2 separate regions of the Homo sapiens genome follow, and region 1 is linked to region 2. The links come from fine-mapping of genetic effects on plasma protein levels. Region 2 holds a variant in brackets. A gene starts in the other region. All regions are shown on one strand. Distances are between the middles of the regions.

Region 1 (10,359 bases), 120 Mb before region 2:
TCCAATTTCTATACGTCATTTCCCTTTTTTTGTCTATAAATCCTCTTCCACCACGTGACTGCACTAGAGTCTCTGTGAATCTGCTGTGATTCTGGGGGCTGCCCAATTTGCAAATCGGTCATTGCTCAATCAAACTCCTTTAAATTTAATTCAGCTGAAGTTTTTCTTTATCTATCTATCTATCTATCTATCTATCTATCTATCTATCTATATACATATATATATATATATATTTTTTTTTTTTGAGATGGAGTCTCACCCTGTCACCCAGGCTGGAGTGCAGTGGTGTGATCTCGGCTCACTGCAACCTCTGCCTCCTGGGTTCAAGCGATTCTCCTGCCTCAGCCTCCTCAGTAGCTGGGACTACAGGCACCTGCCACCACGCCCAGCTAATTTTTGTATTTTTTAGTAGAGATGGTGTTTCACCATATTGGCCAGGCTGGTCTTGAACTCCTGACCTCAAGTGATCTGCCCATCTCGGTCTCCCAGAGTGCTGGGATTACAGGCGTGAGCCACCACGCCCAGCCTGAAGTTTTTCTTCTAGCAAATGTGAAAACAGAGTAATACACATTTCTATCTTCGGGTTATCCTAGGGAAATAAGGTTTTCATCTGCTCATCTGTAAAATGGGATCATGGTAATATATTTACCTTTCCAGATGTATGAAGATTAAATTATGTTAGGAATGTAAAGCGTTCAGCACCATGCCCAGAATACAGGCAAAATTCCATGCAGTACTATCCAAGTGCTGATTCTGGTCCTGGTCAGCCTCCGGGGTGGAGGAAGCTAACTGCATGCTGTTTTTATTGTACTGGGCAGGGGAATGGGAGGAATAGTCAGGGGCTGAGTGAGAATGGAAAGCAGCTTGGGGTGTATGGAGAAGACTGAGCCGAAGCTGATGCCTTGGGCTTCTTTTAGTTCAACATAAGTAGTAATTGACTCGTAACTCCCTCCCCCAGTTTCATCTCCATGGCACATTTTCTTTTGCACCTGCCAGGGGACCTGTGCTTTTTTGAGTTGTAAGACCAACAGCTGTGGGACACAGATGCATGCAATGGGCTGTTAGAACAGGAGCTAGAGTTCTAAGCTGGTTCTGGAACCTGCGCTGTTGACGAGTTGAGTGAATGAGGACTTCACCTCCACTCTCTAGGACTCTGCTTTCTTCCCACATTGGGTCAAGTGCTCTCTAACATCTGCTGAGCCTTCAGCTCTCTCTTAGGTGCTAGGCCTGGTCCCAAGGGCCCACGTTCAGGTAACTCCATTACATCCGAGCAGGAGGGACAACCCCAATTTTGCAACCCACAGCTCTGGCCTGCAATGGATGCAGCCATTGTGGAAAACCCTCTCTTCCTGCTGCGCCAGGGCATGACCTGCTCTTCCAACCCACGGCGAAGAGCGTCCAAAAGAAAAACGCCTGCTGAAGAGCAGGCTCCTCACCGGAGTGAATGCAGCAGGAATCACATGGGCCTTGGAGCTCTGCTGTGGACACAAAGTTTTACTTTTTAAATGTATTTATTGTGCACCAGCTAGGCATTGTGCATCCCCCCCACACACAAATTCTCACAGAGATTCTGCAAAATTGATGTTACTTATTTCATAGAGGGGAAGACTCGGGCTCACAGAAGTTAAGTAAAAGCTCAAAATCACATGGCTACTAAGTCACAAAGCAAAGATGAAGTTCTGGGCTGACTCATTCCAAGGCTATTCCTATCAACCATGACAAACTGCATCTCCATCCATACCTTCAGTGACGAAGTTCCCTTGGCCTGAGATTAGTCCTTCTATCTCTGCTTCTCACCCCATCTCTTGTAACTTCTCCCTTTCAATTATTGTCTTCCTCTTGGCCCACAGTCATGTACACATTTCCAATTTTTTTAAATTTAATTTTATTTTTTGAGACAGGGTCTCACTCTGTAACCCAGGTGGAGGTGGCACGATCTTGGTTCACTGCAACCTCTGCCTCCCAGGCTCAAGCGATCCTCTCATCTCAGCCTCCTGAATAGCTGGGACTACAGGCATGTGCCACCACACCTGGCTAATTTTTACATTTTGTGCAGAGATGAAGTTTCACCACATTGGCCAGGCTGGTCTCGAACTCCTGGGCTCAAACGATCTGCCCACCTCAGTCTCCCAAAGTGCTGGGATTACAGCCATGAGCCACCACGCCCGGCCTACACATTTCCAATTTTTAAATGAACCAATGCACACAAACTCTTCCCTTGACTCCATGTTCTCCCTCCTTCCCTTCCCATCCACACTCGCTGCCTCCATTTCCTCATCTCCATTCTCTCCCTTCAGTTACTGCACTTCACTAAAATCACCCTGGGTAAGATCCCCAAGGACCCTTTCATTGTAAACTTCAGCTGGTAGATTTCAGTCCTTGGAGCAGGTGACACTTTTGACCACCTTGTTCTTATTAAAACATTCTCCTCCCTCCGTTTCTATGGGTCCCTTCTCTTTTGGTTGACTTTCTATTCAGCAATACATTCTCCATATCCTCTTCCTATGCCCATTCCTTAATGTTGATATTTTGAAGGGCTCTGCCTTCAGCCTCTTCTCTTCTCCACTGCAGAATATTCCTGGCCCATCATCTACAGTCATGGCTACAACCCCATCTGCTTGGTTATGGTTCTCGGATCTCCATTTCCAGTCCTGACTTTAGGTCTGAGCTTTACTGTCACAGATAAAACTTCTAGGGTGGGTGTGGTGGCTCACATCTGTAATCTTAGCACTTTGAGAGGTCAAGCTGGGAGGATCACATGAGGCCAGGAGTTTGAGAGCAGCCTGGGTAACACAGCAAGACCCCATCTCTATTTATTGGGGGGCGGGGGGGAAGGAAAGAACTTCTAGACATAGCCCCTGAGTCTTGTCTTGGATATAACTTTGAGATGTGGTCATGGGTCTTCAGAGTCAACCTGTTTGAAACTGGACCCATCATTTTCTTCTCCCACATTTGCTTCTCTTCTTATATTCTCCATCACAGTTTGTTTCATTTACTCTCCCTCCAACCATGGCACTCAGATAATTCATGCAGTCCTGCCGTGTCTTTCTGCCCTCAACACACCACACACACCAGCCCACACACCATGTCCCCATCCAATGGGCCACTGAGTCCTGTATCAATGCTACCCCTCAGACACCTCTTGCATCAGGCCCTTCTCTTCTTTCCCACCACCACTGTCTGAGGGCAGGCCCTTTAGGGACAGTTGCACTAGCCTCCCCAAATGCTGTGCTCACCTTCCGCCTCACATCAGCCTGCCCTTGCTAAGCCCACTGCGGCTTTCTCTCATGAAAAGCTGGTCTTGGGGCCAGGCACGGTGGCTCACACCTGTAATCCCAGCACTTTGGGAAGCTGAGGCGGGCAGATCATGAGGTCAGGAGTTCAAGACCAGCCTGGCCTACATGGCGAAACCCCATCTCTGCTAAAAATACAAAAAAAAATTAGCCAGGCTTGGTGGCATGCGCCGGTGATCCCAGCTACTCGGGAGGCTGAGACAGGAGAATTGCTTGAACCTGGGAGGTGGAGGTTGCAGTGAGCCGAGATCGCGCCACTGCACTCCAGCCTGGTTGACAAAGCAAGGCTCTGTCTCAGAAAAAAAAACAAAAAAAAAAAAGAAAAGCTGGTCTTGCCCGTTCAAGCTAAAACCCTGTAGTGACTCTTCATTGTCTAAGCGTCTCACCTTTACCCACCTTCCAATCCTCATCTCCCATCATCCTGACAAATCCTATGCTCTGCTGAGGGCGAAATACCTGTAGATCTTGTTCCATCTGCCCAAAAAGCCTTCCCTTTCACTCTTCCCTTGGTGAAGTCCTTCAACTCCTCCAAAACCCAGTTCCCTCCTCTGGAGCCTTCCTTGACCTCCCCGGGTGGGGCTGAGCCATCCTGCTCTCCGCTTCCCACATGCCCACCCGTGCCATGTGTTACAGCCCCTACTACATGTTAGTCATGTTTGTGTACAGGGTTGCATTCTCAGCACAGTGCACCGAACCTAGCACACTCTGCCTATTAGGGTAGATATTATTGAATAATAATACATAAAGGCATGACTTTGGGGTGAGCTGCCCAACTTGAGTCCCAGCTGATATTCATAGAACCGCACCACTTGGCAGTCAGGGGTAACCCAACCTTGGAGAGAAAATCCAACCACTTCTTCATCTATGCAGCATTTGAATGTCATGCACCTGTTTGGGGTCAGACACCACCATACTGGGCACTGGATTCCAAGATGAATTAAACACTGCTTCGACCCACAAGGAACTCAGAGGTCAGTGATTAGAAAGCCCAGGTAAGAGCATCCCTGGCTCCTTATGTGTAGGAGCTGTGGCTCCAGGATGGATACATGTGTGCACTCATCTTTTCTTGGGGGATGTGGTAGCGGACGCTTTGTCTCACCCCTAGATGTTGTGACTGGGGATCAGTATTACTTAGAATGAGGGTCAAGAGGACTTACTGAGTCTGCACATAAGGATGCACTTAGGTAAACAACATCACCAAATTGCACCTGGGGCAGAGAATTATGGCCCCTAACATTGACAGCCAGGGGCCATGGAAAAATGTGTAACCTTGTGCCATGGGTTCCTGCGTAATATCTTCCAGGTGACATTCATATTTGCATTCAAGATCTGTATCTATAGATCTGTATCTGTATCTATATGTATGATGTTGTAACTGAGGGAAAGGCCCAAACTGGGCTTGCTCTGTTGATAACAAAATGTCACGTTGCTCCAGCATAAGCAATAGAAAATAGTTGGAACTCTAACAACAACCCCAAAACAATGAATTCTCCCTTGGAACTAAAAAGACTAAGAGACTTGATGGGAATCCGAATGCCAGAACTCTCTCAGAAGCCAGACGTACAATGGCTTGGAAGATGTGGGGCTAAAAGTCCGCCTCAACATACCTTTCTGTAAATGGTCAAATTTAAAGCCCTCCAATCAGATTCTGCCAAGCCAACATTCCTAAATCTTTTCATTGCCTTCTGATCCCATAAATTTACCCCAGGCCTCAAACTGGGGAGACATTTTTTCTTTTTTTTTTTTTTGAGATGGAGTCTTGCTCTGTTGCCCAGGCTGCAGTGCAGTGGTGCAATCTCAGCTCACTGCAGCCTACACCTCCCAGGTTCAAGCAATTCTCCTGCCTCAGCCTCCTGAGTAGCTAGGATTACAGACGCATGCCACCAAGCCTGGCTAATTTTTGTATTTTTAGTAGAGATGGGGTTTCACCATGTTGGCCAGGCTGGTCTCAAACTCCTGACTTCAGGTGATCTGCCCACCTCAGCCTCCCAAAGTTGTGGGATTACAGGCATGAGTCACCGTGCCTGGCTGGGGAGACAGATTTGAATTCACTCCTGTCTCTTTGCTGACCAGTTTTGCAAATAAAGCCGCTGCTTTTTCCAAAGCTAGTGCTTCATAGTATTGGCTTCTGTGCCCATGGGGCAGCAAAACCATTTGCTTGATAAAAATGCGGTGGCTCTCGCCAGTAATCCCAGCACTTTGGGAGGCCGAGGCGGGCAGATCACCTGAGGTCGGGAGTTCGAGACCAGCCTGACCAACATGGAGAAACCCCGTCTCTACTAAAAATACAAAATTAGCCGGGTGTGGTGGCAGATGCCTGTAATCCTAGCTACTTAGGAGGCTGAGGCAGGAGAATTGCTTGAACCTGGGAGGCGGAGGCAGCCTGGGCAACAGGAGCAAGACTCTGTCTCAAAAAAAAAAAAAAAAAAAAAAAAGTGATGTGCTGTTCTTGGTGGTCTGAGTAAGTAAAGGATGAATAAGAAAGACGCCATGTTAAAGAAGCTGAATGTCTGCTAGGAGAGCTAACGCATGTATACAAATAACCAAAATGCAACAAATCCCAGAAGGAATGATCCTGCAGAAACTTCCTGATGAAAAGCTTCAAAAACAGCACCCATAAAGTGCTTTGGGTTTCAAATATAAGCTCAGGTGTTCTGGGCTGGCGAGCTTGCTAGTTAGAGCACAATGCTAAATGGGGCCAAAGGCACAGGCCAGTTACCTGGGGGTAGCTCATCTCAGTGGCCACCAGTGACCTCAAAACCCAGCCAGCCTCATTCCAGAAAGCCACGTTGTGCATAAGTTGAGGGGGGCTGTTGGATACTGGGGAGAGTCCAGCACAATTGTAACTTTTCTATGTCTTCTCTAAGCCCAGATGTCTGCTCTCATTTTAATTTTGCATGATCTTGTAATGGCACCAATCCCAAATCATGTGAATTTAAAATGCCCTAAGCTTCAAAATATACGCTCTCTCTTTATAAAGTTAACATGATTGCTTCTGAGTTTTTAGATAAATTGAATGATTGAGTGCAAAAACACTGTTTAAATCAGAGTGCGATACACATTTTTTAAAATCCCAGTGTAAAAAAAAATATATATATATATTGCTTGGTTTCAGAAGAGAAACAAGCCTTTTGTTGACATGATATCAGGGGAACAGTACTAAAAAAACATCAAAGATAGTCACACACACAAATATCCCAGAGTATTCATAGGGAACACCCTCTGTCTTTCCCATATGCGGTGTGGAAAACGGGGCCAGAACGATCCTGCAGAAACTTCCTGATGAAAACAACCCCGTCAGCCCTTCCCAAGCTTGAGGCCGGCTGCCACGGAACCCCAGCCAGGGCTCCAGCGCTTCCTTCGCGGCTCCAGGGACGCAGTGCCCTGCAGGCATCGCCTGCTTGCAGCCGACTTGAGGGGCTCACGGAGTCCCCTGTGCCCGGGACGCGGCTAGATCCTGGAGAAAACCCCTCCACCCAGCCCCATCTGGCAGATAGACTCCAGATTAGCAACCCCGGAGTCACGTGAGCCAAATTTACGCCGTACCCGGGTTCCAAGGTTAATCACCCCTCGCCCCCTCCGCTTCCCGGCTCCGCCGATGTGCCTCCTCTTCAGGCGGGCCTGGGGTCTGCGTCTCCCAGGCAGCTTTGGGGGTGGAAAAAAGGAGGGGAGCGGGGGAGGGGAAAGGAACTTCTTTGTTCTTTCACCGGATAAACTCAGTTTACGGAATTCTCCAACACCCACTCCCACCCCCAGTGTGCAAATATCTCTGATCCTCACTTGGAGGGCGAACTACTTCATTCATTGAGACTTTTGTGTTCCTGGCCCTAGGCTAAGTATTATCTTGTAAGATCACATTTAAGTTTCCCAACAACCCCCTGAGGTAGGTGTTATTATCCCTATTTTACAGATAAAAAGAAATGAGGTACTGAGAATAGCTTGCCTAGGGTTTTACAATTAATAGATTGGCACAGTTAGGTTTTGAGCCCCAGCCTGTTTTGACCCAAAAGCCCTAATCTTTATAGCTGTTCTTTATATAGCAGGAATAAGAGTAATAACCACTCCTTGCAGAGCAATTACTATATTCCAGGCACGGTGCACGGTATTTCTCCAAACTTCTCTCAGAGGCAGGTTTGCCACTTACCCGTTATGTGGCCTCAGGAAGTTTCTTAACCTCTTTTTGACTCAATTGCCCTGTCTGCAAAATGAGGCTAAAAATATGGTTGTCATGAAGAGTAAAAGAATTAATATATGTAAAGCCTGGCACACATTCATCCCTGAAATTGTTGTTGCTGTTGTTTTTTAACCATCATCTCCATTTCACAGGTAAGGAACCTACCCTTGGAGAGGTGAAGGAGTGAATTAGTCCAGCTTGCCCGCTGCACACCTAGCTGCAGAGAGACCCCGCTCAGAAGCCGTGCGGGATGGGGGCCCCACAGGCAGGTGAATTGCACTTGGCAGGTGGGAGATGAGCTTCTCCGGGGTCGCTGCAGAACGCGCAGCAGCCCGGGAGGCCGTGAATGGTTATCAGTTACCACGCAAGGCTGGGGGTCCGCCCGCTCCGGATTTGCTCGTAGTGCGAGGGCCCCGGCGGTGTGCTGGGGGATCCCGCCGGGCCCACTTAGAAGCACTCGGGGGGACACACCTGTTCGGGACACCTGTGGACGGGGCCCGGCTGCACCGCAGGAGCCCCCCGCCCTGGCCCCCGCGCACACACAGCCCCCCAAGGCGCGGAGGCCGCCGGCCCTCCCGCCCGTCGCGCTCCAGGGCGGAGTTTCCTCCTCTGCTCATTGTTCACGGCCCAGCGCCCGCCCAGCCCCGGCCCCGGCCCCGCCCGGCCCGGCCGCCGCCGCTGGCGGGCTCCTGGGGGAGGGGGAGGGGCGGGGGCGGGGGCGGGGGCCGGCGCTGACGGGACGGGCCAGGAGTAGCCGCAGCCGCCAGTGGGGCCGCAGCCGCGCAGACGCCGCCCAGGACGCAGCCGCCGCCGCCGCCGCTCCTCTGCCACTGGCTCTGCGCCCCAGCCCGGCTCTGCTGCAGCGGCAGGGAGGAAGAGCCGCCGCAGCGCGACTCGGGAGCCCCGGGCCACAGCCTGGCCTCCGGAGCCACCCACAGGCCTCCCCGGGCGGCGCCCACGCTCCTACCGCCCGGACGCGCGGATCCTCCGCCGGCACCGCAGCCACCTGCTCCCGGCCCAGAGGCGACGACACGATGCGCTGCGCGCTGGCGCTCTCGGCGCTGCTGCTACTGTTGTCAACGCCGCCGCTGCTGCCGTCGTCGCCGTCGCCGTCGCCGTCGCCCTCCCAGAATGGTGAGTGGCCGGCCTGGGTTCCGCCGGGACTCCCACCGTGCCCATGTGCCCCCTGCCCGGCCGAGCTGCAGGGAAGCCCGGCGCGCCGCGTGGTCCGACCCCGAGCAGCCCTATCACCGCCGGGGTCACACACGGAGCCCTGACCTTGCACCATCCACGCCCCCTCCAAACTCCGCAGCGCGGCAGGTGCAGGGCCTGGGCGTAGATTCGTCTCCACTCTCCACTCGGGAGGAGTGGGCGGTGGATTCTGCCCGGGCAAACAGGGGCGCGCCGGTGCTAAGTGGGTTTGCATGGGAAAGAAAAGGGAGACCGCACCGCGAGGCTCCACGCTTCTGCGGGACTCTCGGGATCTGATTACACCTTTCCTTCGTGTTGGAGGGAATGAGGGGCTGTAGTGTGTATTCGTTAATTCCAGGCAAAGAGGCAGGCGAGAGGCTCCCGAGGAAGTCCCTGAAGCAGGTGACAAGCCTCCAGCCACGGCCCACGCGGGCGATGTACTTACCCGTTTGCAGAGGTTTTTTCTAAGTAATGTGTGCAGGCTCAACTCCTTGAGCCCGTGCTGGGGCAGGTACAGAGTCGTAAGTGGACCTTCCACAGTCCCAGAGTCACCTGGCTGAGTGGGGGTCCTACCTCCGTGTCCCTAAAACAATCGCTTCTTAGTGCGTGGCTACGATGGTGAGACCCCCCTCGAATCCTCTTGTTCAAACGGGAACTTGTTCAAACGGGAACTTCTCTCTCGTAGAATAGGATTGGGCTGCATTTTAGACACACCTTAGAAAATGTACCTGTCTCTCATGAAACACCTGCACCTCAGAAACATCCCCTCCCTGTTTCTTTTCAAGGTGAAATGTTACTCTTTCCCTTTTGGGGGACAGGCGATGGCTGCAAACTCAACCAGAACAGGTGTTCTTAAGCCCCTAGGGAACAGCCAGAGTCAGCTCAGCCCCACGGGAGAGGTGCATTTCTCATTCTCTTTTGCCCACCTGAGCACATGTCTGCAGGAAGAGCTGAGGTGGTGTGATCACCCTAGGGCCAGGAGGACTGCGGGGACAGCACAGACAGGGTAGGGATTCTGCTGTGAGCAGGTGCCGGCAGTTTGGGACTGGACTCTAAGGGGCCAGGGGAGATGGAAGGGCAGTACAGTCTCTCCTCTGCACCGCAGGAAACCTTTGGTAGTGGGCAGGCGCTGGCACTCAGGGAGCAGGCAGGCGTGGGCATCCTCCTGTGGCCGGCGGGAGACTCCACCAGCCTGACTAGAAAGGGAAGGTCCCGGCGGGGGGAAGAATGTGTGTCCCTGGAAGAGGGGCTGCAGTGTGAGGAACAGTCAGAACAGCTTTCAGAGTGGCAATCACTGAAGAGCCACACGACATGCAGGGTTGAGATGACACGAGAGTATGGTGGCTCCTTAGCCCTACTCTGGGGACAGCTGGACTTCAGGGTGGGCCTTCATACGAACCTTTTGTTGGGAAGCCTCTTAGAACCACCCAGAAGGGCGTTGGGCTGTGTCAGGAAAGAGGGGTTAGTCCCTAGTGCTTCTGAGCTTAAGGAAGCTGAGCCACCCTTCCTTTGAGGAGTGGGAGGCACTGTGGGACAAGACCCTCCCTGTCTGCCCTAAAAGGAAATGTTCATAAGTCACCAGTGGGCAAAGCTCTGACTCCAGCTCACTGCTGGCTTCAAGGATGGCACTGTTTTTCCTGGCACCTGGGCACTGCCAGAAACCATGTCTCTTCCATGAAGCACCACTTCTGGCCTAACACA
Region 2 (8,688 bases):
CCAACATCTGCTTTCTCTTCCTCATTTTCTCACTGTAATTTTTTGTGTGGCTCATACTCGGAAACATACCTCTAGGGCATTCAATGACTACAAAGCCTTGCCCATTAGGTGTCTACAACCCAATACACTTCATCTATATATGTATCAACCCAAACAGTACAGTATTTGAGACAAAGCTCTCAACCTAGACTTGGGTTTGAACCCAAATTTTGTGGGCTAGTATACGACCTTGAGTAAGTTATTTAATCTCTATAAGCTTTAATTTCCACATTTGTAAAAGGTGGTTATTTAAAGGAGACAATGTGTGTAAATTACCCTTTGCTTAAAATAAATGCCCAATAAATGTTAGCTATTATTGACTGAAAAATCATATCAGGTGGCCCTAAGGTAGGTCAGATTTAAACCTTTGTCCAGTTATGTAATTCTCATAAATTCCTAATAGGGTTGGTATGAGAACAAAGTTTAAAATAAAACAACAACAATACAACGAACAAGAAAGCAAGAAAATTAAGAAGACAGAAAAAGAGATGAATTAAGCAGTCAACCTAGAGTCAGAATTGGTATCTGGAGAATGTTGGTGTCATCCAGGTGACTCCAACAAAACTTCAGGCTCCATCTGACATCTTTGTAAAGAATGAGGGAGATAGTCTGGCAAGTTCCAAGAGAAGATTCATATTGACTGAATATTTAATAAATCTAATAATTTATGTTTGGAAGTATGTAGCTTACAGTGTGTAAAAATTATCAAACTGTCCACTGCGTTTTCTCTGCTGTTATCTCTAAACTTTCCTTTGAAACACACACTGGATATGTAGATTCTTAGACAACCTACTCTTGCACCTTTAGGAAATATCAGAATAAAAGCAAATAGGAAAAATAACCAGATAAGTCAACTTGTGATTATCTAAACTAGCTCTGTCCAACAGATATGTAAGCCATATAGTAGCCACATAAAAAATGTAAAAAAAAAAAAAAAAAAGTGAAATTTCATTTTATTTAACTGAAAAAGTTCATCATACTGTTTTAACATGCAATAGTTTTGCGATGATTAATGAAACCTTTCTTGAAATTAGGTGTGTATTTTATTTACAGCATATCTCAATTTGGACTAGCCACATTTCAAGTGCTCAATAACCACACATACTTAGTGGCTACTATACTGTCCAGTGCATATTAAACTTAAGGACTAGACCAGTAATAGTTATAAATTGCTGACCTCTGGAAGCAATTTTTATATTCTGTAAAATAATATTTTTGATAAGATTTACTGCATTAATTATATTGCTCTTATTTATTTATATTTTACTGGATGGCCAGGATTCTGTTAAGCATTTATGCAATAAAAGACAATAAAAGTAAAAAGCTATAATTATTAGAAAACAAGAGCTAGCAGACAATTATGGTTACCCAAAAAAACTCAAGAATCTCAAGTGAAGAATCATCAGAAATAGAGAATTCAGTTACAAAGCCAGATTTTAAAGATGCTTAAAAAGAAAATCAAACAAATAAGTTTTCATATATATCAGTAAAAAGTTAAGTCTTTAAAAGCCCAAGTAGAACAGTAACAAAAATATTGCATACCTATGGAAATAGTTTATAAAACTTGACCAAAGGACCTAAAAGGTGACTTACAAAAAATCCTGGGCAAAGATGTTATTGTCCCTAAATTAATGAGTTTGTATGCAAAGATAAAGAAATGAGTTGCCAAAACACTTAGAAAAAAAGAAGAGTTAATTTGCCCTTAGAATAGTAACTTAAAACTGCTGTAAAGCTACAAGGTTCAAAACAATATGGTGCTGGGCCAAAATCAAATGAGAACAATGGCATAGAAATGAAATCCCAGATTTAGATCCTACTATAAGTAAGGTTACAGTGTATGATAAGGGGGACATTTTAAATCAGTAATGAGTTAAAAAATGGTAGTAGAATAATTAGTTAACAATTTAAAAAAATCAGGAGCTCTCTACCTCACTTATGTACTAATATGTTTCAGATAGAATAATGTAAATAAAACTGAATAAAGTAGATCATATTTGACCATTTCTGACCTACAGAAAAGTCAATTTTTCATGTAGAGAGATATATATGTAAACAATTACACATATATTTTAAATCTACCATATTAAGACTCACTGCAACTTCTCTGGTGAAAAGTCTATTACTAAGAAGGTGGAGTGGGAAGGGAACTGCTTAAGAGTCAGTTCTGAACAAGAAATTTAGGAATGTAACTCTTTCATGAATTAGAATATCTTTTACCCTGACTTGCTAGATAAAAATTTTCTGTATTTTCAGTAATTAGTATATAGAAAAAAAAAGTATGTATAAGATTTAAACTCATTTAGGGGGAAGAAAACTTACTAAATGATAGATGGATAATAATAGAATTTTAGTTTCACGTTGGGTTTATGTAAGAATCTCCTGAGGGAGAACAGGCAATGTCAGATTGATGGGTCAATTTTGGTACTCTGAATTCTAATTCTGTTTTATGGTCTTCAACATAATTTGATAAATTTCTAGAGAAAGAACAAATTTGCCAATTATGATGTCCCTTTGCTACTACTGTATGTGTATCCAACATCAGATACTCTTAGTAAGATCTTATATGCATTTGGATGTATTTGCTACATGTTTATATTCTTGAATTTGGGTAAATTTTTTATATGGGAAAAGGATACAGAATTAAGGAAAAAAGATCAAGTCATCTTGGAATGGTCAAAATATATTAAGAAAAGTTTACATCAAAAAAGCATCCAAAGTAGTACTCTCACTAAAATAGAAAAACAGACTATCAAAAGTTTCCTTTTAAAGCTGATTACCTAAAGCTTGGGTCAGATGTTCTAGGCCAGGGTCTCTGAACCATGGTACTACTGACATTTTGGGCTAGAGTAATTCTTTGTTGTAGGAGGCTGTCCTGTGCATTTTAGGATGTTTAGCATTTAGTAGGTTTATAATGTAGTGGGTTTCTACCCATTAGATGCCAGTAGCAGCCTCCTAGCTGTAACAACCAAAAATGTCTCCAGACCTTGCCAAATGTCCTCTGGGGGCAAAATTGCCCTGGGTTGAGAATCACTGTTCCAGATGATGATTTGAAAGCATTGCCTTATGAAGATGACAGTAGTAGCATGAAGTGTATTATTTATACGTTAGGTCCACAGAAAAGAAGGCATAGAGAACTAGTGACTTGCCTAAAGGCATTATTAGTAACAGAACTGAGCCTAAAAGCTAGGTTCCATGATTCCTGGTCTCATTCAGTTATTCACTGAAGCAATGCTTATAATAGTGAACACAGCAGACATGTAATTAACATTGATAAATCTCAATGTTGTGTGAAAAGGGCAAGTTGTAGAAAGATATTTATTTAAAAATCTGAAAAACAATACTATAGCATTTTCTTCTTTAAATAACTGAAACAAATGTGGCAAAAAGATTAATATTTGGTAAAGACAGGGGATAAGTACAATGTATATTCTGAAATATTTGTACTACTGGAATACTTCCTAAAATAATGCACTTTAGATAAAATTCTCAGGAATGTGAGCCAAGGCTTATTAAATGCTTACTGTGTGAAGGGCTGTACTATGTTGTAATTACAACAACTAAATAAGACAGGTACATTATGTCCATCTTACAAATGAGGAAACTGAAGCTCAGATGTCATCCAAGGCTCCTGTCCATCCAAGGTTGTTCGGCTATTAAGTGAGAGAGCAGGATTTGACTCTAGGTCTTTCTGAACCTCCATTAAATCCTCCTGATGACTAGAAGGCTCTTTACCCAGATCTTCACCCAACTTGCTCTCTAATAACACTCAGGGTTCTGCTCAAAAGTCACCTCTTTGAGAGGCCTTCTTAATCACCCAAACCAGAGGACTCCATCCCACTCTGGGTCACTCTCCATCCCCTTACTTGGCTTATTTTTCTTCAGGGCACTTACTACTAAAATCCTATTTTATATTTACAAGTCTGCCTGTTTACTGTATATCTCCTCATCCAGAATGTAAGGTTCACGAGAACTGGAAATTGGCTGTGATTTACTTCTACATTCTCAGTGCCTGGCATATAACAGCATCAATAGCTATTTGCTAAGTGACTACTGCTGATTGCTGATGTCCCTGTTCTCATCTATTTTGTTATACTGCCACTCTATTTAAAAAGACTAAGGAAGAGTCCTTGTTGTTGGTACTAAAGAAACATACACATATTAACATGTTTTTATCAACAAAATTCAGTCAGTCCAAGTATTGACATAGTAATAAAATTTCTAAACTTACCTCTACAGGAGGATAATAGTTGTAATTCCAGTACCAAAACGTTCTAGGTAGATAACCTTTAATTAAATGGTGTTCTGGCACAAAGGGATGAAAAGTTTCTTTTCCAATGGTATCTCTGGAATCTCCTGCTTCTACATTCATAATTTCCATGCATCTCCCCAGTGCTAAGTCTTCAATGGAGGAACTATGTGTACACTTGTCTGTTTTAAATGCATCAACAAATCTTTTCAAGGCTTCTTTGCTTAGTACATATCCTGCTCCTCCACTCATGTAGCCCTGCTTTACATAAGGCTTAAATCTTCTCCCAAAGTAAATGGGTTCTTCAGGGTCGTATTTTGAAAGAAGCCACCTCAAATTGTCTAGTATGACATACGTGTCATCATCTGCTTTCAAAAACCAATCAGCATCTTCTAAATAATGTTCATGAACATACTGAAAAGCTTTAATTGTTTTCCAGTATAGTTGATCTCTGCCTTCTTTGGTTTTCAGTCCCACAGCAGGGAAGTCTTTATTTTCTTCTGAACTCATAAACAACACTTTGTTACAACGCTGGGCCCAAGTAGCTTTGACGTGTTTGGCCTTTTTCTCTAGGTTTTGAGGGCCGGTCATAACCCAGCAAAGAATTCTAACTTTCTGATAGAGGTTTTCAGCAATGTCTGTGTTCTCATCTATTAAACAAAACATTTTAAAAGGTTATTTACATAGATGTAAAATCCAAATATTAATAAATTATACTGAAGAAAGCACTGTCCTAATTTCAAAGTCCCTATTTATCCCTCTATTAGTGATTTAGCCAAAGGAAAGCAAACTCATCCTAATGTGAACTGACACTCTGATTTATTGGTTTCATGTCAGTGTTATCTAGGACATCACTGGAGCTAGTAAGAGTTGACATTATAATCTAAATTCGTCTCAAACTGTAGTTTACTGATTAAAAGCAGCAGCATCACCTGGGAGCCTGTTAGAAATGCATAATCTTAGGCCCAGACCTACTGACTCAGAATCAGCATTTTAATAAGTTCTCCTGGTGCTTCATAGGCATGCTAAATGCTGCCTTAAATAGTCTCTGCTTGGCACTTCATAAAAGAAAGCAGCCAGTTTTTAATAGATTACTGACAGAAATTTCTCACTGCTCTGAACGAGTTTCTGAAGAGCAGGAAAGACATGCTGCTGAAGTGGCAGTTCATTTTTGAAGTTCACAATAATCCACTATTAAGAATTTCTACAAGTACCCTGAGGTGGTAAAAGGTCAAAGCACAGGAGTTGAGATTACTTTCTGATAGTCACATACCTCATTCCAAAATGTAAATCCACCAATCAAAAACAGAAGAGAACAATGGTAGACATGGGAATTCCAAGATGGTCTAGAGCAGTGCTCTTTAAACTACAGGTTTGCAAAGAAATAAGGAGCTTATACCAGAACAGAAAGCAACACATTACTTTGAAAAAGGCCTACTATCAGAACCAACCAATCAAAATGTCCACTTAACTAAGCAGTGAGCTTAAAACTGAAACTTAAAACTGTCCATTTAAGTAAGCAGTGAGCGTAAAACTGATTTACATCCTAGTGTAACCTCATTATCTTGTGCAGACAAACAGCTGACAAAGTGTCAGGCCAGGACCGCATTTTGAGTAGCACCGGTACAGAGGAAGAGCTCAATGATGAGATTCTAGATGAGTACTTCCCAAGCTATCTGTGGTGAAAGGCCAATTTTTATTTCTAAAAGAGGTCTACACTGTGTAAATAGGATAAAAATGAATTATAAGAAAAATAAAACTAAAATATAAAACAAGTCCTAAATTTTTATTTTTAGCTTCAGACAAAATTACTCCAATTACAATAAAAGTTTCTGCTTACTCCCAAATAAGCAGACATTCTTTAGTTATAGGACCAGAATGAGTCTATGAACTGACTTTCAGTAGCAATGTTCTGGGCAGTATCCTGACGAAGCATATGCTTAAAATTAAGGTCAAACAGCAAGTTACAGAAGCTTAGTCCTATGAGAAATTAACAATGGAGGCATATAATATACTAGTTAACCAACTGAGAGGGAATAATGGGAAAAGCTGGGTGGAACATAAAAATATTCTCATGTCCCAGCTGGGCACAGTGGCTCAGGCCTGTAATCCCAGCACTTTGGGAGGCTGAGGCGGGTAGATCACGAGGTCAGGAGTTCGAGACCAGCCTGGCCAACATGGTGAAACCCTGTCTCTACTAAAAAAGATACAAAAAATTAGCCAAGCGTAGTGGTGGGCGCCTGTAATCCCAGCTACTCGGGAGGCTAAGGCAGGAGAATTGCTTGAACCCGGGAGGCGGAGGTTGCAGTGAGCCGAGATCCCACCACTGCAGTCCAGCCTGGGTGACAGAGCGAGACTCCATCTCAAAAAAAATAAAAAATAAAAATTCTCATGTCCCTCTGAGTATCAAGATTCACAATCCAAAAGGACAACAGCAGACAAAATCACCCTACTTTCAGTCAGAAAGCATAGACATCTCATATCCTTGAGGAGCCCAATCTCTTGGCTATACAAATATACCAAACCTTGAATGGATAGAACAGTGAATGCAGGAATCCCCAATCTGTTTCATTCAGGTAAGACAGGTTTGTCCACCGCTGAACTTGATAAATAATTTTTCATTCACTAATTGCTTTGTACTGGGCATGGGCTGGCATAGGAGATGAAAAAAATGAGTAAGACACATTTCCTGCTGCAGAGGAATTCAGTCCATTCAGGGAGCCTGAGCCTGACACACAAACCAATAATTGCTAAATACTAAGAGATGTTATTATAGAGGTATGAACAAAGGATTCAATGTGCTGAAGGAAAATAGTGGCTAATAAATCCTACAGAGCAGTAGATAGGGACCTAGGTAGAACAAAGAGGAAGATTAAAAAATAAAGACATAATACAGAAAATAGGTTATAAGTTCACCAAAAGGAATGGTGAAGTTTGGTTGAGTGCAGGTACATGGGTATAGCTGAAGGCCTGAATCGGAAATGCACTGAGGACTGAGAGGAAAAGAGATGAAAAATGGTAAAGTAGCAGCACTGTTAGAATGTACTGACAAATCGAATTGGCTAGCATGTGAAGGCAAGCACCTACCATGATTTCTTAATTTCTGGCACAGACAGATGGTAATGAGCCATATAAAAGAAAGAATAGAGGAGGAAGAGCAACTTCTAGGAGTAGGAAGGAAAAGGAGACTCAATTTACACATGCTGAGTCTGAAGGGAGTAGACAAACTTTTAGCATACCCCACATTTTGTAGGCCACTGAGCTGGACAAGTATGTATCTAATACACATGCCTGCAGTGAGGCCTCGTACGGCTTACTATTAGTAGGGAACTCTGCCTCCAATTGATCACCTAAAGACATGTGGCTATGCTACAGAGCAAATACACAGTGACCAAACTGTTCTGTAGGAACACAGAGCACTTGCTCAGAGCTGAATTACTGTTACATAAACAATCACAAAACACGACATACTTTGTAATAGTATGTTTATGTTTGCTAGTTGATAAAATGGAACCAGGCTTTGAAATCTCACCATTCAACCTCTGCTTGAGAGGTGGTGAAGAAATAATTTACTACTGAGAAGAGAAGAGAAAAAACTGAATAGTGGACCCTCTGCATCCCAGAATTCCAATTGTTTTCAAGCTACTTATATTATTTTCTGTCAAACCGTATTTTGCATTGTGTTAATGTCACCTCACAATGTCTGGAACTGGGCTAAAGACAGTAAGAAATAGAAGGAAATTAAAATTATGCGGGTTAATGATGTCACACAGACAAACAGCTAAAGGACAGAAACTTGGAGAGAACCAACACTTAAGGGACACATAAATAACTCAACTGAGAAAATCTGGTTAGAGGTAGGAGGCTAGGAGAAAATGAAGTCTTTAGAACGCATCCTTGGTTTTTAACTTCCTTGTTCTTTGTGCCTCTTGAGGAAAAAAAAGATTAGTT[C/A]TATTAACTAATTATAAAAATATAAATCGAAACTTACATACACCTCAAGTTTCTCTAGGAAAACAAGACTTAAGCAAAAGCTATGACCAAAACAAGTAACAAAAACCAAAGACACACATATAACAAAACTGAACCTAGAAAAACATTTTCAGAAACAAATCAAATCTGAATAGTTATGCCCTTCCCCAAATCATGGGTTCTGAACTATTTCTACTTAAAAACGAATTCAAAATTAATATCTTATTCCCTAAATAAATCTGAGTTTTAGCAATTCCCTTCTCTTGAGGCAAACCAAGAATTATTTTTAATATCTGGAATATATAGCCCATTTTAATTAACAGATACAGACAGGAATATGACAAAATTTAGACTAAAATACTGCTTATGTTTACTGCTTAATAAAGTAAACCATACCTTTATGTTGGCTAGAATCTGCATTGAAGTTCATTTGT

Direction of the effects. Alleles are on the strand shown, and positions count from the first base shown. The strength of an association depends on the size of the effect and on how common the allele is.
As copies of A replace C in region 2, the plasma level of the protein whose gene starts at base 8,233 in region 1 goes down (moderate association).

The links. PIP is the posterior inclusion probability: the model's chance that the variant is causal. Protein levels are from antibody-based Olink assays in UK Biobank. Linkage for the fine-mapping came from a reference panel and not from the study's own genotypes, which makes the PIPs less certain.
Region 1: PODXL starts here. The variant in region 2 is fine-mapped to the plasma level of the PODXL protein (UK Biobank, PIP 0.91).

The regions. Positions count from the first base shown.
Region 1 is chr7:131,554,502-131,564,860 of GRCh38, reverse strand. PODXL (podocalyxin like) reads left to right here and starts at 8,233. Exons shown (of 9, transcript NM_001018111.3): 1 at 8,233-8,601. The coding sequence starts at 8,502. RefSeq lists an enhancer at 7,298-7,845 and silencers at 7,813-7,932, 7,963-8,022, 8,103-8,612.
Region 2 is chr7:7,234,502-7,243,189 of GRCh38, reverse strand. It overlaps C1GALT1 (core 1 synthase, glycoprotein-N-acetylgalactosamine 3-beta-galactosyltransferase 1), which reads right to left. Exons shown (of 4, transcript NM_020156.5): 2 at 8,651-8,688; 3 at 4,268-4,935. Among named protein-coding and RNA genes, the nearest start is that of LINC03016, 16 kb to the left of the region's middle. The variant C/A (reference allele first, on the strand shown) is at 8,237.